Homo sapiens: one gene and its partners. The protein of the gene in region 1 purifies or fractionates together with the protein of each later gene. This does not show direct contact. Each region holds a gene or a part of one and is shown in the gene's direction. Other genes may lie near its edges.

What was found.
Region 2: the proteins of TAFA4 (region 1) and SUSD5 purify together in Homo sapiens (affinity purification with mass spectrometry; 2 studies listed by BioGRID and IntAct, with this or other methods). This does not show direct contact.
Region 3: the proteins of TAFA4 (region 1) and PLXNA2 purify together in Homo sapiens (affinity purification with mass spectrometry; 2 studies listed by BioGRID and IntAct, with this or other methods). This does not show direct contact.
Region 4: the proteins of TAFA4 (region 1) and DSC2 purify together in Homo sapiens (affinity purification with mass spectrometry; 2 studies listed by BioGRID and IntAct, with this or other methods). This does not show direct contact.
Region 5: the proteins of TAFA4 (region 1) and TM7SF3 purify together in Homo sapiens (affinity purification with mass spectrometry; 2 studies listed by BioGRID and IntAct, with this or other methods). This does not show direct contact.
Region 6: the proteins of TAFA4 (region 1) and INSR purify together in Homo sapiens (affinity purification with mass spectrometry; 2 studies listed by BioGRID and IntAct, with this or other methods). This does not show direct contact.
Region 7: the proteins of TAFA4 (region 1) and PTPRU purify together in Homo sapiens (affinity purification with mass spectrometry; 2 studies listed by BioGRID and IntAct, with this or other methods). This does not show direct contact.

The regions. Positions count from the first base shown.
Region 1 is NC_000003.12:68,880,548-68,884,047, reverse strand, and holds part of TAFA4 (chemokine-like protein TAFA-4 precursor), read left to right. Parts: intron 1-3,202; coding exon 3,203-3,318; intron 3,319-3,500. UniProt on the Homo sapiens protein: Modulates injury-induced and chemical pain hypersensitivity. Ligand of FPR1, can chemoattract macrophages, promote phagocytosis and increase ROS release.
Region 2 is NC_000003.12:33,156,311-33,159,810, reverse strand, and holds part of SUSD5 (sushi domain-containing protein 5 precursor), read left to right. Parts: intron 1-3,500.
Region 3 is NC_000001.11:208,041,885-208,045,384, reverse strand, and holds part of PLXNA2 (plexin-A2 precursor), read left to right. Parts: intron 1-174; coding exon 175-318; intron 319-642; coding exon 643-877; intron 878-2,181; coding exon 2,182-2,324; intron 2,325-3,018; coding exon 3,019-3,287; intron 3,288-3,500. UniProt on the Homo sapiens protein: Coreceptor for SEMA3A and SEMA6A. Necessary for signaling by SEMA6A and class 3 semaphorins and subsequent remodeling of the cytoskeleton. Plays a role in axon guidance, invasive growth and cell migration.
Region 4 is NC_000018.10:31,058,340-31,061,380, reverse strand, and holds the end of DSC2 (desmocollin-2 isoform Dsc2a preproprotein), read left to right. Parts: 3' UTR 1-2,541; downstream 2,542-3,041. UniProt on the Homo sapiens protein: A component of desmosome cell-cell junctions which are required for positive regulation of cellular adhesion.
Region 5 is NC_000012.12:26,993,885-26,997,384, reverse strand, and holds part of TM7SF3 (transmembrane 7 superfamily member 3 precursor), read left to right. Parts: intron 1-522; coding exon 523-643; intron 644-1,976; coding exon 1,977-2,148; intron 2,149-3,500. UniProt on the Homo sapiens protein: Involved in the inhibition of cytokine-induced death of pancreatic beta cells. Involved in the promotion of insulin secretion from pancreatic beta cells.
Region 6 is NC_000019.10:7,111,765-7,114,089, reverse strand, and holds the end of INSR (insulin receptor isoform Long preproprotein), read left to right. Parts: 3' UTR 1-1,825; downstream 1,826-2,325. UniProt on the Homo sapiens protein: Receptor tyrosine kinase which mediates the pleiotropic actions of insulin.
Region 7 is NC_000001.11:29,274,522-29,278,021, forward strand, and holds part of PTPRU (receptor-type tyrosine-protein phosphatase U isoform 1 precursor), read left to right. Parts: intron 1-926; coding exon 927-1,235; intron 1,236-3,500.

The DNA.
Region 1 (3,500 bases):
TGGCTGTGTCATAATTTGTTTAACCAGTCTCATACTGTTAAACATTTGGATCATCATTTTTTTTTGTCTTTCCCTCCCTGCCTCCCTGCCTGCCTGCCTGCCTGCCTTCTTTTTTTGAGACAGGGTCTCACTCTTTGCTCAGGCTGGAGTGTGGTGGTATAATCATAGCTCGCTCCTGCCTTGAATTCCTGGCCTCAAGCGTTCCTTCCACCTCGGTCTCCCAGTGTGCTGGGATTACAGGCATGAGCCACCATGCATGGCCAGATCATTTTCAATAGTATAAACAATAAAAAAAAGTCCCATACGTTGCTGGTTATTTCTTTAGGGTTAAATCCTATAAGTGATCTGCTGGATTGTAAACGTTTGACATACATGATCAAATTATCGATCAATTTATGGTTTTATCAAGTTAAACTCTTTCTCTTTGTATTAGAGATATTTCATTCAATTATTGCCAACAGTGGGACATTATTTTAAATATTTTAATTGCTTTCCTTTGAGTGTGGGTGGCATTGTGGTTTTGATGAGTTTCACATCTTTGATTAAATTACACCTGTAAGGCATAGATGAAGGGATTTCACAGGTGTTTTTAAGGTTTCACATACACTGAATTTAGTTAATCAAAAGAGAGACTATCCTGGGTGGGGCTGACCTAATCAGATAAGCCCTAAAAGGGGACTGAGCCTTTCCTGGAGGAAGAGATTCAAACCATGAAGGAGCACGTGCAGGGGCCATGTGGCAAAGACATGAAGGGCTTGAGAGCAGTTCCTGGTCAATAGCAAGAATACGGGGAATACAGAGAGTCCCAAGAAAATGGCTTTTGCCAACAACCTGAGAGCACTTGGAAGTGATCCTTCCCCAGTTGAGCCTCCAGATGAGGACACACCCAGCTGACACCTTGATTTTAGCCTGTGAGTTTCTGAGCAGAAGACCCAGCCAGAACATGCCAGACTCCTGACTTACAGAAACTGTGTGATAATATATCGGTGTTGTTTCAAACTGCTCCTGTCCAAGCTCTAACTAGGCCCGACCCTGCTTAGCTTCTGAGATCAGGTGGGTTGAGGGTAGTATGGCTATAGATTGTTGTTTTAAACTTCTAAGTTTGGTAATTTGCTTCAGACATTGCTAACATTCTAAACTTACACAGAAACATGGAGCCTCTCTGCTTTGAAGGGCCTTTCGTTTCTCAAAGCATGCCTTCCATCTCCACCTCAGTGTACACACATGAAGAGGACAGAAACTCTAGAAACAGCTTGAAAGGTGGCAAAGAAAATAATACGTGGATCTTACCTGAGTTCTAGATGCTATTATCAATCACATAATTTGGGGGAAGTCCAGAGGCTCAAATTCCGGTATTGGATGATTTATTTTTTGTTAATGTAACACTCTGTCTCACACATAATGTTTTAAAATTCCAGTTATTACCCCAATATCAGCTATCAATCTATTTGTTACAAAGGCTTATTCCTCTTACCCAAGGATCAGAAGTTCAAATGGCCACATGTAAATGAGTTGGGCTGGTTGGGCCCAAGGTACTGACTAGTGGGAGGGACTGTGGAGACCCTTCTAGGGGCAGCTGCGACCACGGCAGCCTGTTACTCCCATGTGGAAATGTGAGCCCGGGGATGCCAGGAATAATTTTTCAAGAGAATCTGGATTCTGATTTGCAATCTGGACATTGTATGTGTTGGCAACCAATTCAATTTCTTTCTTTTTTTTTTTTAAAGCACAGATCAAACAAAACACATTTGCAGGCTGGATCAGATACCCTGGCTTCCAGTTTGTCATAATTAGTGGCCCCAAAAGGGACAATTTCAAGGCATCACATAAATGAAAGATTAATTTTTTATTGCTGCATTGCAAATTACCCAACATAGCCGTTTAAAACCATTTTGAAACAGTTTAAAAGGGCAAAAAGAAGCCAGTGCTTTTTGTTGCCTTTAACACCAAGTTCTTCAAACATGATTGGCCTGGCTACTTAAAAAGCAGACCAAATCTCAAATCAATGAGCAATACACCCTTTAACAAGATCTATTTGACGGAATTGTGAGAGGTCACGGAGAGAGAATGTTGGCAGCAGAACATGTGTGTGCCTCGGCGTATGGTGTGGCATTCAATTCCCCTGAGGCTTTGATGTGTTTTCGTGGAGTAGGGGACTGGGACTTTCGTAGAGGCACTGCTAGGTTGCTGGGAGCTGGAGATGCTTCCTTATAGGACTTCCTTAGGGGTCTTGCCTATAGTGTGACTCAGGCAAGAAGCCAAACTCAGGTACCATGTTTTTATTGTCGGCCCATAAGTGTGTATACATTTGCATATATTAAACAGGGGTTTCTTTGATCCATTGTGGTAATAATAGATGCCATGAGGCATGTGTAAGGAAGAACCTATTAGCACCGGAATTTCAGATGCCAAATGCGGTGAGTTTTGCTTCAAAAGTTAATATAAAAAAAGCAAACAAAAAAAGTTAATCGAGTTCTATCTACTTAATTCCCTTCTGATGTTATAAAATGGCAGAAAGTTAGGCAGCTGGGAATAATGTTTTTGATATCTTCCTTTTTTTTACTCTTTTGTTTTAGAATAGACCATGCAACTGAATTGTCATGTGAACGGAATTGTTTTTGAGCAACTGTTTTGATACTGTCCATCATACGAAGTTAAATTTATTTTATATTCACCTGTATTTGCCCATACTCCTTCCCAAAGGAGGAGTTGAGATTGGTTTAATCAACTATGAACCTAGTCTTCCAGACCAGAAAGCCTTAGGGTACAGTCAGAGAAACCAGGAGAAAGTTCTTGGACCACATGTGCAAAATCTCCATGGATTCTTTCAGATCCAGAAAACATATATATTTTATTTGGATCTGGCTCTAAGTGTGTTGCTTTTACATCTCATGGTATAAAATAGAATAAAATCCCCATGCTCTATTAGGGTAACTCAGGCAACAACTTGCAGATTCATAAATAAGCTTCTCACTGATGCATAGTGCTAACTTGGAAAACTCTTAATTATCAAAGGTTTTTATTGAAAATTTAGTTAATGCTAAGTGCAAATAAGGTTTGATTGGTCTTCTGTTTTCTTGGGAGAAAGGAATTCCAGCTCCAGGGATCTGCCCCTGCTTTCTCCCGCCTTCCTAGAATGGTGCTTGCCAGGGAGTCTGGCCTTCCTCAGCCCTCACTGACTCCAGCCCTGCTTTTCCTCCAGGATGAGAGTCTGTGCTAAGTCAGTGTTGCTGTCGCACTGGCTCTTTCTAGCCTACGTGTTAATGGTGTGCTGTAAGCTGATGTCCGCCTCAAGCCAGCACCTCCGGGGACATGCAGGTAAGCCCTTTAAGCTCATTATGCACTGCTGAGATAATAAAACCCCTCCAAATGTCAGAGTCCACATTTTAGACACAGATAACTGATGTGAGCTTCTGATGGTGTGTAAATAACTAGAGGAAGCATGAAATATGGCGGAGTAACACAGTTTAATGGTTTAGTGCTTTAAGAGTCCTTTAAAA
Region 2 (3,500 bases), about 36 Mb from region 1:
TGGTAAAATGTTTTTGCTGATGTTTAGTATAGTTTCCTCATTTTTAGAAATTCACATTCAGTAAGCCCAGTTTTATGTTTGTGTTTGTGTGTGTGTGTGTGTGTATGGGTGTGTTTGGTGGTGTTTCCCCATTTTGGTAGGTATGGGGGAGGGAAAAATATACGATACAGTTTCAACTGGAACACTTAGATATTTTCAAGTGTAGCCTGTAATGCACCCTGCTCATAAGGCAATTTTGGCCTGTATCCCCAGTACATATTCTAGTGGTCTGGAACATAAGTGATGAGGTAGAAGAAGGAGGAAGAAGAGCAGAGGGACGGGCAGCCAGAAGCAAGAACAAAAAGGCAGGGAGCACTGGGGCAGATGGAAGTGAAATATGGGGTGTGGGCATAAGAGACAGGGAAGAAGCCGGAGCAGAGGTTACAGCGAGACTTGTCAGGGCCACAGATACTCTGAGGTGCTGGAAGATTTTGAGTATCCCTACAGTCACACTTCTTTTTAGCTGTTGGTTATTTGGGTAGAATTCTGCTTTCCCGTGGACAGTATCAGTCTTGGTATCTGCAGAGGTGACAAGATGGTGGTCCATGAGGACAGTGAGGAAGCACTTCGACTCACCACCCACCTTGACACCGACAGCCTGCCAGCTTTCCCATCACCTAGGACTGCCTTTGGCAAAGCTCTGTGCAAATGTTGTTCCCTTTCATCATGCTGACTGAGTTCAGCACAAACAGCTTGTTTACTCCCAACAGTCAGTGAGCTATAGTTGATGACCTGAAAGAAAATGAATGCACTCTCCGGATTCGTGCAAGCAAGAATGGGAAATGACAAAAATACCATGGAATAAAATAGAATCTGGGGTTCTTCACGGTTCGATGTCTTGGGGCTGCAATGAGGCAACAAAAAATATTCCCTAGTAAAATGACGTGTGGAAAGAGGCCTTAAGGTATAGCTGGTGCATGAAGTGATGGCCTATGCTTTCGAGTGGGTGGAAGCTTCTTGAGGAAAAATGATCTTGGAGAGTTACTGCTTCCTACCTTACCCCTCATGAAAGGGGGCCGGGTTCTGGCTGAGAACAGGGATATTCATCCTCAACAGCAGAACCTCTAGGAGACAACTGGCAAAGGTGTATTGTTTCACAAAGATAATTTCTTCTGCAGTACCGCAGAATATGTTCTTTTCTTTAATTAAGAACAAATTGGTTGGGGCAGATTTGGGGCAAAAATGACTGGTCAGACATGTGGAATGCCAAGCTTCTTTGCATTAGGAGCAAGCTTTGATGGAGCGGGGTCACCATTCTGCTTGAAATCGACTAGCAGTGGGGAGGGAGTTCTACTAGGCTACCCTTTGAAATTGATAGGGATGTGGGCACCAAGGAGAGGCTGGGATGAGAAGAGATGCTCTCACCAGCCAGGCTGTGGCAGCGATTTGCTCACCAGTGTGTGAGGGTGTGTGTTGTGTGCACGTATGTGGTGCACACCTGTGTGTGTTTGTATTCAATTGGTCCTTCAACAATGGCGTCTTTTCAGAGGGTCTTCGGGGTGTTATGAGAGACTATGGGTACAAGTGATTTATTCCGTGTAATTTAGAAGTGGGCCTATAGTCCTCTTGTGTTTTGGGAGACTGTGCTCCTGGAAACTGATCCCAGTGCTGAACAGTTTTAAGGTAGCAATGAAGAGAAGCTTGGGATCTGAGCTGTTGCAGACTTTTCCTTGTTTTCCTTCCAGAACCATTTATTCTTTCACTCACTCAAGAATACCTATAAGAATACCTATAGTAGATAAGCACTGTTCTACTTTAGGGACACAATGCCTTGGGGCCTGCTCCCCAAGCAGCTCATTGCTAGTGTGTTAGTTAGCTTTTTCTGCATAATAGACCATCCCCAAAAACTTAGTGGCATGAAACAACAATTTATTCTGCTCCAGTTCTTTGAGTCAGCAGTTTGGGCTGGGCTCACTCAGGTGAATGTGGTCAGCCACAGCTGGCTAATCTACGGTGGCCTCAGTTGGGACGTTTACCTCTCCTTCATGGGGTCTTTTATCCTTCAGCATCCAGGTTTGTTCACATGGCAGCTGGCAGGGCTCCGAGGCAGAGAGCAAAGGTATGCAACACTTTCATTGCGTTCAGTAGGTCAAAACAAGGGACAAGGTCAGCCCAGATTCTAGAGATGAAAAAATGGGCCCCATCTTTTCATAGGAAGAGAGGTGCAAAGTCACATTGCAAAAGGACTTGATGCAGGGAAAAGTGGAGATTTGTGGCCATTATTGCAGTCTGTCTTCCACAGCCAGTAAGTACACACATGTGCACAAGCAATCTAACCACCTTATCCTGAGGTCAAAGATATACGTCATGACTTTCTTAAATCTCAGTGTGACTTGTCTGTATGTTTTGGGTAAATTGTAGTGAAAAGTTCTGTCATAGTGGCATTCATTTCATTTTGTTGTTTTTTGAAGGAAGGACAGTACTTCAATGCAAAACCTAACGCCCATTCAGAATGTTGGGTGAAAATTTATGCACACAAAATCTTTGAAGTTCAACCCTATAGGATGCAAGACCATGAGATTCTGTCCCATATGCTCCAACGGGGGAGGGAGTATTTATCCTGTTCACCAGTGATCCCAAACTCTAGCACATAGTCAGCACTCAGTGAGGTCTGTTGAATGAAGGAGTGGGTCAGTGCAGGTTTTGAAATGAGGATATAACAGGGAATGTGAAGGGCCTGACTGAGCCCTGGGAGCCTGTATGTGAATTCTACAAGGCTCATTAGAATGGTCCAGCCATCTGATATGTTTTTTGTGTGAGGTTTTATGAACAGGACACAATGGGGTGTGATTGGGCTGTCCTTTTCTAAGCATAAAACACGCATGCATTTGATATTTGTCAGTGATGTTTGCTCTTCATCCACTGTTTCCCTTTTCTGACTGAGGACACATGTAAAGTGAATGGGCTTACATGTCAGGAGCAGATCAGAAAAGATTGTTAACTTTTATTTATAACTCTGTCAGTCATTAAATAAGCAAGATACAGAGTCTTATTCTCTAACAGCCTTTAGAAATAAGCCAGATACCCACTAATCTAGTTTCAGAGCCCAGGAATGCACCACATGACACCTCAGCATTCCATCTAGACCTTGGCTCTGGAGCTCTGTGCATTTTGTTCTTCCGAAGTTGAAAGTTAAGTGGGAGAAGCAGTCTGTTTTAATAATTTAAGTGTATCTTCCAGTAGGACTTGGCTTTCAAAGACCATTGAGAGAGGGGAAGGTCAAAGGGCTGCTGCTGTCTTCTGAGGACACCAGCTTCTTGAGCTTTCCTGACCAGTTGATTCCCCTCTCATCGGGCTGTCCTTACATTCTGGTCTCCTAGTTGTGGGGCTCTATTGCTTCTTATTCAGTTGAATTCAGAATACTTTACAGCATCATCTCATGACTTGGAAGTTTTACAGAGAGCAAATCAGTGTTTTAAAAGATGCATTTGGGGGCCGGGCGCGGTGACTCATGCCTGTAA
Region 3 (3,500 bases), on another chromosome or scaffold:
CTTTCTCTCTAGATCATGGCTGTTAGAAGTCCCCTCCACAAAAACTTGCCAAGGAGTCATTTCCTGGTTTTTGCACTGCTGCCCTTCCCCGTCTCCTTAATCTCTTTTTAAGTAGGCAATTAACTTGTGCGTGCATGTGTCAATTATGCCTATAAAGACTGCTATTCTCTACAGGGCAAAAACCTCTGCCCTCCTGCCTCTGGAGGGGCCAAACTCAACTACACTGTGCTCATCGGAGAGACCCCTTGTGCTGTCACCGTATCTGAGACCCAGCTTCTCTGCGAGCCTCCCAACCTCACCGGGCAGCACAAGGTCATGGTGAGTGAGCCCTGCGTCTGTAATGCCTCCTTCCCGCCTCGTGGTGCATGTGTGATCTGTCCTAAGGAAAGGCTCTCTTCTGTCTCGTTGCCTGACTCACCCCCTCCATATCTCCTCATCTCTGGGTCCTACATCAAATTGGGTATAAGCTGAGAACACAAGAAAAGAAAGGCAGATGCCGAGGCAGGAAATTGCTTTTTATCTAGAGCTGCACTGTGTGGTTGTGGTCTGTCATGTCCTTCCTCGCACTGTAAGGATCTGCTGGCATGCCCGGGCTCTACACCTGTGTGCATCCATGTGCGTCTGTATGTGTACAATGCACAGGTTCACGTGGGCGGGATGGTGTTCTCGCCTGGCTCGGTGAGTGTCATCTCAGACAGCTTGCTGACCCTGCCAGCCATCGTCAGCATCGCGGCCGGCGGCAGCCTCCTCCTCATCATCGTCATCATCGTCCTCATTGCCTACAAGCGCAAGTCTCGAGAAAATGACCTCACTCTCAAGCGGCTGCAAATGCAGATGGACAATCTGGAGTCCCGTGTGGCCTTGGAGTGCAAGGAAGGTTAGTGGAAGCACACCCTCATTTGCTGGGTCCCTCTTTCTCCACCTGCCTTATTGCCCTTCTCCCTGCAGACAACTCCTATCTTTACTCCCATCGCTGCCAGCCATGCCTCTGCATTCCACTTTCACCCCTGTTTTCCCAGAACTTCTTTTGCTTATAGGGTCAGAGATGTCCAATGAAGAATGCCCACTGCATGAGGACCCAGGTCCAATTGCATTGTTCTAGTCCCTTCTTTGCCCTGACCCATCCCACAATCTGGCAAACACTTTCTCCCTCTCAGGGCCTCAATGTCCCCACAGTCAGAGTCCCCAGGCTCCACAGCCCCAGACTCTAGATCCCCCATGGGAGTGTCCAGCTCTTGTTTTTCTGCACACTGTCTTCGCAGCACGTGGGAGCAGCGGCAGCAAAGGCAGACAAGCACCTGCCTCATCTCCCCCAGGGTTTGTTTTCCATCAGTGCTGCAGGCTGAGCGCTCTGAAGGCCGCCACTTGCTGGTGTCCTTGGCTGTGGACGTGTGTGGGAGTGCAGATTGTGTTTTCTCCCATGTCCCACGCAACCACAGCCTCGAGGTGACGAGTGTACCTGGCGTCCTCTCAGGCTGAGGACCTGGCAGGCTCTCTGGGTAAACAGCTCAATTAGGAATGAAAACATTTCTCCTTTTGCTGCAAATGTCAAGATCAGAAACAAGCCCTCTGCTGGATGACAGGGAAGAGCTGGGCTGGGAAATAGGACATGTGGAGCCAAGGTTCCTCCTGGCAACAGGGCTGGTGAGTTTGGCAGAGGAAGGAGCCAGGAAGACAGGTGTGCCACCACCAAGGTGAGGCTTCTGAAGCCCTTGCCTTCCCAAACTCGGCTCTCAGCTGAGCGTCTCATGACCAGACCTCCCCTAGGCTTTTGCATCTTGATTTATTACCTTGATTAGAAAAGGGCAGCACTTTGCCTGTTCTGGTCTTTGCTGGACCCCCTCAGCCATGGTCTCTCACCTGCCTCCAGCATCTCCGTGATCTTTACTAAACGGCCCAATCATGATACTTTTTTTTCCTTGTTGAAACTACACTTGTAATATGTAAAGAGAAAATTTGAAATTATAGATAAGTATAGAGGAGAAAATAACATAAAAATCACCCATTTCCCCACCACCTAAAAACAGCTGGGAGTAGCCCCGCCCTCTGGAGACACACTCCCGTAATCCTCAGAGTCTCTACAAAAGGTCCTCCCCTCGTCCTTTGCAAACTTCTTCTCCCTCTTTCTCCTCCCCCGACTGGGGCTTCCCCACGAGCCTCTCCGTCTGCTTATTCTCATAGCTTTTGCTGAGCTCCAGACGGATATCAATGAGTTGACCAGTGACCTGGACCGCTCAGGAATCCCTTACCTGGACTATCGTACCTACGCTATGCGAGTCCTGTTCCCGGGCATCGAGGACCACCCCGTCCTGCGGGAGCTGGAGGTAATGCCTGCCTCCTGGGCCCAGCCACCCAGCAGGGATGCAGGCCCAGGGTATCCTAGGAAATCCAGATGAGACTCAGCAGTACTGAGTAAGGTTAGCAGGGAAGAGGGGTCAGTAGTTTGTAACAGCATCTCAGCAACAGAGCTATCAGGAAGGTTACGGCTGAGGGGGCACCCAGGCTCCTTGGGATGGTTCCAGGGTAAAGCTCATTGTTTGTCATTTTTTAATTAATGACTGAACTAATTAACTAAGATCCTGCCTCATTCTAAAATGGATTTAAGATGGCTTAAAGAAAGACACAGGATTCTATGAGGTTTGTTTGTTCATTTGTTGGTTTGTTTTACTAAAGATAATAAATCAGGCAGAGGAGATTAAGGGGAGACTAGTAAACTGAAGAAGTTTGAGGGGGCATCTCCTATTCTATCCTTGGGAAAATCAGGCAGCCTCCCCTCTGAGAGCTCCGCATGGAGCCCAGCCTCCCCGGCCCAGTGCAAGGTCAGAGCAGACTGTCGACCTTAGAGCCAGCTGTTCCTACATCATCACGGGTGAGTGGAATGGGGTGGGGTTGGTTATAGGCCTCAAACATAGGGTCCTACAGCTAGTGTCATCGCCAGCAGGCCCTCAGTGAGACCCTCAGGTAGGAGGCCCGATGCCTGTCCTCTGAGGGCGTCGCCTCCACCACACCCCACCCCAGGTACAAGGAAACGGGCAGCAGCACGTGGAGAAGGCCCTGAAGCTCTTTGCCCAGCTCATCAACAACAAGGTGTTCCTGCTGACCTTCATCCGCACCCTGGAGCTGCAGCGCAGTTTCTCCATGCGCGACCGGGGCAACGTGGCTTCGCTCATCATGACCGGCCTGCAGGGCCGCCTGGAATATGCCACTGATGTCCTCAAGCAGCTGCTCTCTGACCTCATCGATAAGAACCTGGAGAACAAGAACCACCCCAAGCTGCTACTCCGGAGGTCTGGCCCGCAGCAGTGGGTGGAGAGGGTGGCAGGAGTCTGAACCTGGACAGAGCACCTCATTATAGCAGGCCCCACAAGCAGCATGAGAAGGCCCACTCCCCAGAAGGGGCACCCATTCAGAGCAGCCTGTGTCCTCACGTCTCTGCAGGGCAGAATCTGACTTTCCCTCAGCCCAGGGAGACTACAGAGTCTGAAGTCACCCAGGTGTGA
Region 4 (3,041 bases), on another chromosome or scaffold:
TCCCTTTGTGACTGTACCTTTGTATCCCTACAGAAAATCTGGGCATAGCTGAGAGGTTAGAATTGTGGAGTTTCTGCTAGCCACATCTTTTCTGTTTACTTATTTTGTTAGGATTCAAGGGAGAGGACAGAGCAGAACACTCACTGCTTTTCAGTTAACAAATATGAAGGCAAACTTGCTGATATATTCGCTTGTATAATTTTTAGAGTGTGTTTCACTGACCATCAGCATCAGAATCACCCTGGTGTTGCTGAAAATAGAGATCCCTCATGAATCAGTCACAGGAGTAACAGGCTAGTAGGGGAAAAGTATAGAAGCCTTCACTTTTCAATACATTTTCTAGGTCATTTTTTCTTACTCTAAAGTTTGACAATCGTTAGGGTTTTAGTAACTGGGTTTATTGATTATTTGGTGGTTTATGAAACTTAAGTATTTAAAATTTGCCTTTTCATATAAAACATATTAAGCAAAATGCTAGAAATGTACCAAAGAGTTGAAACACATTGATGAGTAAAATTTCACAATGTCTGCAAATTAAGCATTTCAGAATGTACATTGTTCCCTGTGGTTTCTACTTTCTACATGCATGTGAACGAGAGAAATAGTCTTAAGGTAGGAATGCAGAACAAAGCCACACAGAAAACATTTAATAAAAATTAACAAGTTTTGCCACATAAATGCTGCTAGTCAAGAAGATGTATGCAAAGTAAGTTGCATATATTTTTAAAAATCAGAATTGCCAAATCTCCAGAGATAAATAGAACTAGAAAGGTCAACAGCAGGTGGAACAAGTGACTGTCCAGAAGGCAGCAACTGTTTGGCATCACTGTGCTGTTGTGTGGGGACCTGTGTCAGGTGGGGTAACAGGTAATGCTCACTGACTGTGGCGGCCAGGAGCTTCAGAGGGGCCTGTGAATCAGGGATGGGAGATGAGGGTAGAGACGAGACTTTTCAGCTTAAGGAGTGTTCCCCTGGGAACAGGGCCAATTGGAAAACTCCCAGGCACCAAGGACATGAGTTAACCAATAGGGAATGAGAGGCTCAGAAAGCCAGAGGTGAAAGGAGCAGAGGGTGTCAATATACACAAGATGTGATGCAGAATTACCAATGAAATCAAGTAAAAGGGATTTATCCAAAAGAAGTAAGAGAATAGTGTAAAGATTCTACTCACATGCAAGGATGTTTGTCTCAGTGGCATTAAATATATGAATAACTGAAAATAAACTAAATGTTCCATGACAGGGAAGTAATTAAATGATGTATGATCCATTACTGTGATACAATGTACCATAATTGAGGACAATGGAAACAATGATCACACACAGACTTCGCAGTCAGAAAGACGTGGATCCAAATCTCAGCTTTGTTCTTGCTGTGTTACCTTGGGAAATCACAGAAACCTCAAATTTCTAGCATATCAAATAAGGACAAATTAGGAATAAATTATATAATTCACATAAAGATCCTAGCTTACTGCTTGGCTCATCAGTATATCAATAACCAGCAGCTATCACTATTGTGATATGATGATGGAATATCATGCAATCATTTTATTTTGAAAACTTTAATTAAATGGGAAAAGACATAAACTATAGTAGTATTTTAAAACTAGGATAGGTTTCCAAATTATTATAATCTCACATTTAAATAAATATGAGACTATCTGTAATACACTAAGATATTGAGTGATAAATCCTCGGTAAATGAAATATTTATTCATTGTGTGTTTCCATGTTTTCATTTTACCACAAGCATTTATAATTTATAACATTGAGGGAAAAGTTCATGTAAATGAAATACAGAGCAAGAAAAACTCACAGGCTTTAGAATTTGGGGAGCTTACAGGCCTGTGAAGAAAAGCCTTTTCATCTTAGCTTTAATAAATAAAGTTTTCACTGAACATATTATATTTACAGTAAATGATTAAATTGAAAGCAAAAAGAAAATACTGTATCATCTCACATTATCATAACTGAGTGCATTCATGTGCTTTTGGTCTTAAAATTTTACTTTAACGCACTTAGGATTTGTCGTCAGTAATTTGTTATGCACTATCTAGACTAAGAATAGGTATTAATTTACTAGAATTGTCAAATGAAATATTTCAAGCAAAGTTTGCATAATGAATGCAAGTTTAAACCAATTAAATGTGTTCACTTTTTAGCAAGCTAAGCTGCTCCTTATTTCTCCTGTAGTAGACACAATCACAGTTAATCTTTGCACAATGCATCGCATTCTCCATGCAACCTAACAGAGCGGTCTGGGATAGAGCCTGAACTTTGGGTCCCTTGGGGCCCAACAGGCAAGGTTCAGATCTGGGCTCTACCACAAACCATCTGTGTAACCTGAACCTCCCTAGTCTTCAGTTTCCTCATCTGCTTTAAAAAATTGCTAGAACATAGTTCTATGTAAATGTTCGGTGTTAAAATTTATTTGGTATCTACTGTATGTAAGATATGGCCTCTGCTCTCAAAAATATGTAGTCCCAGAAGTGATATAATATGTTCACGGAGACGTACTATTAAAAAGTGCCACAAAAAATCTGTAATGGAATGTTCTTACAAATATTACGTGTGCGTGTGTGTGTGTGTGTGTGTGTGTGTGTGTGACCTTTTTTAGCAAGAGATGTCCCAATCCCTTCACATTTACATCATTACAGAATTCCTTTGGAATCAATGGCAAATGTCCTCCTGTGGGGAGCCAGGTGTACTGTGAGTTTCTGTTATCATTCAGGGAAGAAAGCTGTCAAAAGCTTGCTTGTTTTAAAATTGTAAACAAGTTAGTGCTGGACATTGGGAATTTTACCTTATTATAATAAACAAAATCAATTTTGTTACTTGTTGAGCCTTGTTCCGGCGGCAGTTTAAGTTATTTATTAAACAAATAAATTGAGTCCTTTTGAGGTTTCTTCTTAAGTTTTCTTAGGGCAGGTTTGGTGGAGACTTTAGGGCTAACTTAAGTCCTTTGCTGAGGTGTGACTCCACCAAATGTCCAGAGTTTTCAGAGGAAGATCTTTTCTTTCCACTGCCTCAAACTTCAAT
Region 5 (3,500 bases), on another chromosome or scaffold:
AGGAAGATTCCAACATGATATTGAAACATATATACACACTGTGTATCTGCATTCCAAACCTGGCCAGAAGTAGTCAACCAATAGCCGATCTTTTTAACTCTAGAGGAAAGGTTGGCAAACTACAGACCATGAGCCAGATCCAGCTTGCTGCCTGTTTTTGTACATAAAGTTTTACTGAAACACAGCTATGCCTCTTCCTGTACGTATTGCCTGTGGCTGCTTTCCTGCCACAAGGACTGGGGTGGGTAGTTACTGCAGAGACCATCAGACTGACAAAGCCTAAAATACTATTAGGCCTTTTACAGAAAATTTTGGCTCTGCCCTGCTCTAGGGCCCTGAACCTCAGTTAACTCTACCCTCTTTAACCTCAGTTCATGAAATAGTATACGACTAGAAGCTCTACGTTTATATTTAACTTCTATTTGGGAAGTTTTTGTAAGAGTAGATAGAGTTCTGTTTTTCTGAGTATGATTTGGATATGTAGGAATTGTTTGTTTAGTAACTTCCCTATTTCTTATCCAGATCCTGTCCCTGGAGGCTGTAATTTGGAGTTCGATTTAGATATTGATCCCAACATTTACTTGGAGTATAATTTCTTTGAAACGACTATCAAGTTTGCCCCAGCAAACCTAGGCTATGCGAGGTACGTCTGTCTCCCATGTCTGAGAAATGCTTTTAGAATATACATGACGACAGTTGTGTAGATTTGACCAGCTCTCTCAAGTCCCTAATTCTCTGTAGTAAAATTGAGTTAATTTTTGGGGGGAATTGATGTAATTTAAACTTCACTATTAATATTTGGACTGTCATTTACAGTTAATATTTTCCCACTTCATTCTTGTGAACTCTTTTTATTTGAAGAGCCAGATGTGAGTCTATTATGAGCTTGAAAATACATCCTGGTTTTTATAAAGCACTTTAAATATAGATAGCACTCAGTAGCCCTGAAACATCCTTTTATTTTTATAAAGATTCATTGTTTTAATTAAAGCTGTGCCTCAGTTTCTGCTTTAATAGTAATGATAGCTAACATTTGAGAACACTTGAATGCTTCCTGTGCATTGTCCGTGGTGCTGAGTGTTGTTATGTTCTTTGCCATTTAATCCTAACAATTTTATGAAGAAGGGCAATTGCTGTTATTTTACAGAAAGTTTCCCTAGGGGTTATGGAGGTTACCCTACTTGCTAACAAATGACAAATCTGCTATATTCTTCTTCTTTTTTTTTTTTTTAAATCAAAGATGAGGTCTTTCTATGTTGCCCTGGCTGGTCTTGAACTTCTTAGCTCAAGCAATCCTCCTGCTTCAGCCTCCCAAAGTGCTGGGATTACAGGCATAAGCCACTGCACCCAGCTTTTTTTTAAAAAAAATTTTTTTGCCTCCCCAGAGCTGTAGTATTTTACTCTAGGCCTGACTGATATCAGAATCCAGTTATGTAATCACCTTTGCCTGTTGGTGTTTGTCTTAGTTTGTGGTGCTGTAACAAAGTAGCACAGACTGGGTGGCTTATAAACTTCTTTCTCATGGTTCTAGAGGGTAGAAGTCCACGATCAGGATGCCAGCACAGTTGAGTTCTGGTGAAGGTTCTCGTCCAGGTTACAGACTGCTGGGTTGTCATTGTGTCCACACATGACAGAAAGAAGGCTAGAGGGCTCTCTGGGATCTCCTTTATGAGGGCAGTAATTCGATTCATTAGGGCTTCACCTTCATGACCTAATTACCTTCCAAAGGTCCCACCTCCTAATATCATCACACTGGGAGTGAGGGTCTCAGCATATTAATTTTGGGGAGACACAAACATTCAGTCCATAACAGTGCATTACTTTTCTTCAGAATACCAATTGTTGCCACTGCAAAAGGTGAACTGTTAAATTGTAATTATTGTTGCAAGTGTTTGAAATTAGGGCTCTTGGTTCCTTTTTATAGATGGGACTTGCACCACAAGAGACTGATGTTTCATTTTGTTGGTTGACTTTAGAGGCGTAGATCCCCCACCATGTGACGCTGGGACAGACCAGGACTCCAGGTGGAGGTTGCAGTATGATGTCTATCAGTATTTTCTGCCTGAGAATGACCTCACTGAGGAGATGTTGCTGAAGCATCTGCAGAGGATGGTCAGTGTGCCCCAGGTGAAGGCCAGTGCTCTCAAGGTAAATCTGAGTCCCATGATTTGTGTGGCTGGATTGTGACACCTTTGTCAGAGTTGAGAAGGGGAGAAGCTACCAGGATCTTATTTCTTTACTCTTTTCTCCTTTTTGGGGGACACTCACTTTATTCTCTTTTGTTATCATCTTGGGAGTCTTTGCTGGTGATATCTCAAAATGATGTTGGCCTTTGAGGAGATGCATGTAAATTATGTTACGTTTTAGTTGCAGCCACATCTGTGACTTGGTAATCTGAAATGTGAATGGAAGGAGGTGGTAATTTTCTGTGTACTCCCACGACTACTGGGTAAACATTTTTGGCAAGTATGAAGATTACATTGTTTTGAGAAAAAAATAATGAGAAACTGCTTAAGGATATACACATTGGCATTCATATTTGAACCCAAACTCAAAGTCTAACTTGGAGTAAAATTCTTCTCTGAGCTTTTGAATCCATGTAAACCCTTGCTCCCCAGGTGTGGACCATGGACCAGTGGCATTGGCATCACTGGGGAGTTTGTGAGAATTGTAATTCTTAAACTCCACCCTGGAACTACTGAATCAGAATTTGCATTTTATATCCCTCAGGTGATTCTGACTGGGTGCAGTGGCTCACGCCTGTAATCCCAGCACTTTGGGAGGCCGAGGCGGGTGGATCACCTGAGGTCAGGAGTTTGAGACCAGCCTGTCCAACATGGTGAAACCGTGTCTCTACTAAAAATACAAAAATTAGCCAGGCATGTTGGTAGATGCCTGTAATACCAGCTACTTGGGAGGCTGAGGCAGGAGAATTGTTTGAACCCAGGAGGTGGAGGTTGCAATGAGCCCAGATGGTGCTGTTGCACTCCAGCCCTCAGGTGATTTTTATGCATATTAAATTTTGAGACTCACTGCAATAGATCATTTTTGTGGAGGGCAGGATTTTATCTTTATGTCTTGAAAAGTGCCTAACAGCAATATAATATATGAGGTCATCCTTCAGTCTAATGGTTGATGGGTGGAGTTTTTCTAGACAGCGTCATTGTGCTTATTCACAAAATAAGAAGCTCTGTTAGTAAAGTTTATTAGTTGCTTTATTAGATATGACATTTTAATACTATTATTATTTTTATGAAGAATATAAGAACTTGTATAATAGGCTTTTTGTAGGTTACTTTTAAACTTTTAGTTAAAAGAATATTTTGTACCAGAATGTGGGGAAACCCTCAAAGACTAATGAGGGTATGTCAAAGAGATTCAGGAGCCTGTTTGAAGGGGCTTGCACTGCCAAATTTGGGGCAGTTCAAGAATCAAGAAAAAGACTGTGGTTGTCAGCCTTGAATAAATACAAATGAAACCTTCCTCAGTTGCCACCACTG
Region 6 (2,325 bases), on another chromosome or scaffold:
ATTAATGTGCTGAACGCTTTTTTTTTTTTTTTTTTTTTTTTTGCAACAACACCTTGGACCTCTGTGTTGGGGTTTGACTGACCTCAAGCTGATATTATTGGACCTTGTGCAGCTTTGATAACCCATGTGAGAGTCTAGGCAGGACCAGTGGGGCCCAAATCTTGCTGCTCTTGTACTTTTAGGCACTGCCCTTGCAGACTCACCTTTCTCCACCTGCCCTGGAGAAAGGTAGGGTGTGCTGGGCCTGCCCCTTGCAAATGGGATTCACCAGTTTCATTTATTTGACTCTACTGCCACAGTGAAAAGAGCAAACAGCTATTGGGTTGCAAACCTCCTTTGACATTAGGAAATGTTGACTTTGTAACAATAAAACTTTGGTCCTAGAAAGACACGGTTGTCCTGGGAGTTTGTAGTGTTAAGTTGCAACAACAACAACAAAAAGCAACAAAACCAGCTTAGGATAACACTTTTTGTTGCTTGTTCTTAAAGATGTCTCACTATGATTAAAACCCTTTTCATTAATGTAGTGAAAGCCACACAGGAGTTCCTTCTTCCAGGAGGAGAATACCAAGCACATCACTTTCTCTCTGCATCAGTGATGTCAAATACGCATCAGAAAATGTTCAGGTTTTAGGAGCTGTCCTAGGTGCTGTTTCATCATTGGAAGCAGTGAGAAAGAGAAGCACTGCTGCTTGTCTGGATATAGGCTGAGGATGATTGAGAGAAGCTGTGGGAACTGACACAAGGGTCTGCATAGGTCATCCTGTGACCCTGGGGACTATGTTACCAACTGACAGACAGATCTTTCACTGTATCCTAGCAGGGCAGGTAGTCCACCAAGAAATGTGCTTATTGGATTGGGAGGTGTTTATTTGTAGTCTGCTGTAACACGTGTGAAAGAGCAGGAGCGTCATCAGCATATGACTTGCGCTGGTCATCCGGTAAATGGATGTGCTGTAGTCCCAGTGCTAATCATTTCTCTCCTTCACAGTGGGTGGAAGTTTAGGGTTAAATGTCCTTTGAATGTCACCTGGTGAGTCCTTGACACCTTAGGCTCTTCAGAAACAATGGTTTTGTTGAGGATGGGGAACAGGGAATGCCGATTTTATATACATGGTACACAGAGAGGGGTGTCACTTCAGAAAATCTTCCAGCATGTTCTTCAGAATATTAATTTATATGCGAGGTGAGGTTGGGAATGAAAAGAACAGGTCAGCACTTTTTTTTTTCCTAGAACATACAAAAGAACATGGTGGACTTTCAGGGAGTGCAATGGAAGGTGAATATTTCCTTAAGGGTCCCCGAGAAATGGGAGTGAGGGGAGGGGACACAATGGCTTTTTGAGCTTACTTTTACCTTCTGATACTAGTCAAGGTCCAGAACCAGCCACCAGCCAAATTTCTATCTGGGTGCGGGCCACTGAAAATCCTTGTTAAAAACCAGATCACAAATCTGGGGCTCTTGGTCCCATTGGAGAAGGAAGGAAGAGCCTCAAAATAAGTGTGCACCCATGCACATATTCAGGAACAGCTTGTTTAGTCTTTACACTTTGCCTGAAAGTTGCTTCTCCTCGTCCCTTTGTGTGCCTGGGTGGCCTCGGCCCTGTGCGTTGGCAACGCAGGATCAAATGTGCTGCAGCTTTTGCAGAAAACAACTCAGAAACACAAAACCCCCCAACAGCTCAATTATTATTTTTTCAATGTTTTCCTACAAGAGCCAAGTAGCACCATGTACAGAAGACGCCTTTTTTTTTGGAATATTGAAATCGTTCTGCATGTAAAATATGGGATAATGACCTGTTTATATTAAAATTCTGATTAAATTATCTGAGAATACGCTTGTTTTTGTGTGGTGTCCCGGTAAGGACCTGTCGTGTGGTCGGGGGATGTGGCTATGAGTTGGGCTGTGTTAAGGAAAACCTCTTGGAATATGTAGGTGCCTTTTTTTAGAGGAGAAAAACACCTAGATTCTTCCACACATGAAAAGGGAGGTTAAATAGTTGCTACCAGCAGAGTTGATGACTCGTAGGGACATACTTGTATGGCCAAACTGGTGGTTTAAATATTGCACTATTTCCATACCATTTGGTAAGTAAGCGCTTCCCCAAGGGCTCCCAGACCTCCCCATGGTCCAACCACTAAAGGGTTCACTCCGAGAATACCAATGAACCTTCAAGATCTTGCTCTATTCTGACATGCGGGAAACTCATATGTTAAGTATTTTCAATGTCATCCTGGGAGTGGAGACCTGTCCCAGGTTGGGTGGACAGGTGAGTGACCATGGGTTAGACCATGGGATTGAAAGCCTTTTGAATAGTCTTTCTTG
Region 7 (3,500 bases), on another chromosome or scaffold:
GTCATGTATTTCTGTTTCTGTTTCCCTGTCATTCTCTGGCTTTATTTAACTATTTGGCTCTCATTTCCCTCATTACCCTGATTTCTGTATGTTATTATATTATATGTATTACTATACATTGTTTCAGAACAAGTTTGGAATTAATACCTTAAGAAAAATATATCAACAGTTTGATTCAGACTGGCCTGTTGTAGTCCAGGGTGATCTTGAATTAGGAGGTGAACTGTGCTATTAAAAATAAATTATTGGCCGGGTGCGGTGGCTCACACCTGTAACCCAAGCACTTTGGGAGGCTGAGGTGGGTGGATCACTTGAGGTCAGGAGTTCAAGACCAGCCTGGCCAACATGTGAAACGCTATCTCTACCAAAAATACAAAAATTAGCCAGGCGTGGTGGTGTACGCCTGTAATCCCAGCTACTTGGGAGTCTGAGGTGGAAGGATTGCTTGAACCTGGGAGGCAGAGGTTGCAGTGAGCCTAGATCATGCCATTGCACTCCCTCCTGGGTGACAGAGTGAGCCTCTGTCAAAAAAAAAAAAAAAAAAGCTAATATTTTTGAGGGCTTATTGTATATTAGCCATTGTCATGCATCCTTTGTGTGTATTTCCTTAAACCTTACAATGATCCTATGAGGCAGGGCCTATTATCTTTTCATTTTGCAGTTGAGGAATCTAAGGATCAGAGGGGTGAAGTGATTCAGCCAGCAGTTGCCAGCTGCAAGTGGCAGAGCCAGGATTCAAATGTAGTCCGCCTGACTCCAAAGCACATACTTTTACTCCCTGTTTGATGTTCTAGGGGTCCCCTGAGCTCTTGGGGGCAATGGAGGGATGATTTCAGGCAGCTGACTGATGCTTTCTCTCCCTGTTCTTCTTCCTCTTCTCTTCCCATTTCTTCTAACTTCTTCTCTCTGCTTCCTGCATTCTCCAGAGCCCATGAGGGCCCCCAAAGGCCTGGCTTTTGCTGAGATCCAGGCCCGTCAGCTGACCCTGCAGTGGGAACCACTGGGCTACAACGTGACGCGTTGCCACACCTATACTGTGTCGCTGTGCTATCACTACACCCTGGGCAGCAGCCACAACCAGACCATCCGAGAGTGTGTGAAGACAGAGCAAGGTGTCAGCCGCTACACCATCAAGAACCTGCTGCCCTATCGGAACGTTCACGTGAGGCTTGTCCTCACTAACCCTGAGGGGCGCAAAGAGGGCAAGGAGGTCACTTTCCAGACGGATGAGGATGGTAAGAGTCTCAGTCCCAATTCCCGGGGCCCTGTGTACCTCCCACAGATACGCCATGTCTGAGACTGAAATTTACTGAGGGTATTTTTTTCTTTTTTTTGCTTAGGATTAAACCAACTGTATAACACCAAAGTAGTGATAGCTCCTATTTTTTCTCTGGAAGACTTTGGGTTAGATTGGTCTAATTTCTTTCCTTAAGTGTTTGAAAGAATTCAGCAGTGAAGCCATTTGGGCATAGAGTTTTCTTTGTGGCAAGGTTTTTAGTAAATTTTAGTTTTTAAAATAGATATTGGGATATTCAGATTTTTTTATTCTTGTATCAGTTTAGATGGACTGTATTTTTTAAGGAATTTGTTCATTACACCTAAATTGTCAAATTTCTTGAGATAATGTTGTTTATAATTTTTTTTATTTATTTAGAGACAGAGTCTTGCTCTGTTGCCCAGGCTGGAGTACAGTGGCACCATCTCAGTTTGCTGCAGCCTCCTCCTCCCAGGCTCAAGCGATCCTCCCACCTCAGCCTCCTGAGCTGGGACTACAGGCATGCACCACCACGCCAAGCTAGTTTATTTATTTTTGAGGCAGGGACTCACACTTTTGTCCAGGTGGGAGTGCAGTGTCATGATTATGGCTCACTGCAGCCTCGACCTCCCAGGCTCAAATGATCACTCTACCTCAGCCTCCCAAGTAGCTGGGACTATAGACGTGCACTGCCATGCCTGGCTAATTTTTTTGTATTTTTTGTAGAGACGGGGTTTTGCCATGTTGCCCAGGCTGGTCTCGAACTCCTGGGCTCAAGTGATCCACCCACCTTGGCCTCCAAAAGTGCTGGGATTACAGGCATGAGCCACTTCATTTGCCAATATTCTTTTATTATATTTATTTAATGTCCATAGGCTCTATAGTGATATCATCTTTTTCATTTCTGATATTGGTAATTTCTGTTTTCTTTTTTCTTGTTTACCCTTGTGAAGACTGTATAAATTAATCTTTCCAAAGAACCAACTGTTGGCTTACTTGATTTTCTTTATTTTCTATTTTTTATTTCCTTTGTTATACTTTCTTTGGAGTTGATTTGCTGTTCTGTTTGCCTTTTGAGATAGAAGTTTCTTAGATCATTAATACTGAGCCCTTCTTCATTTCTAATATACGTGTTTAAAGCTACACATTTTCCTCTAAGTCCTGCTTTAGCTGTGTCCCACAAGTTTTGATATTTCCTATCTTCATTATCATTCAGTTCAATTTGTTGTCTATACAATTGAACTGTTATTTCTGTTATAATTTCTGCTTTGACCTAAGAGTTACTTAGAATTATGTTGCTTAATTTCTAAGCAATTGGGACTTTTCTTTTTTGTTTGTTTTTGAGACACAGTTTCACTCTGTCACCCAGGCTGGAGTGCAGTGGCACAATCTCGGCTCACTGCAAACTCCGCCTTCTGGGTTCAAGTGATTCTCATGCCTCAGCCTCCTGAGTAGCTGGGATTTCAGGTGCCCGCCACCACGCCTGGCTAATTTTTGTATTTTTAGTAGAGACAGGGTTTCATCATGTTGGCCAGGCTGGTCTCGAACTCCTGACCTCAGGTGATCTGCCCACCTTGGCCCTGCAAAGTGCGGAGATTATAGGCATGAGCCACTGCACCTGGCCAGCAATTGGGACTTTTCTAATTGTCTTTTTATTATTGATTTCTAGGTTAATTCCACTGTAGTCAGAGTATATACTCTAAATTTTATTTTGTGAAATTTCATCTTTACTTTATGGCCCAACATATTGTTAAATTTTGGTAAATGTTCCAGTGTATTTGAAAAGAACATGTATTCTGTTGCTGTTGAATGCAGTGTTCTACATATGTCAAACTAATATTTAGCCCTTAGCACATTCAAGCACCATTCTGAATGGTTTTGATATATTACTGCATTTAATACCCATGACAACCCTATGTGGTAGGTTACTATTTCTATTCCCATTTTATTTCTATTCCCATTTTACAGAAGAAGTCACAGAAAGCCTGGCTTTCTAACCTGACCATCTGGCTTCACAGTTGTCATTCTTTTTTTTTTTTTTTTTTTTTTTTTTTTTTTTTGAGATGGAGTCTTGTTCTGTTGCCCAGGCTGGAGAGCAGTGGTGCAATCTCAACTCACTGCAACCTCTGCCTTCCTGGTTCCAGCGATTCTCCCACCTCAGCCTGTCGAGTAACTGGGATTATAGGCACCTACCACTACGCCGGCTAATTTTTTGTATTTTTGGTAGAGATGGGGGTTTCACCAT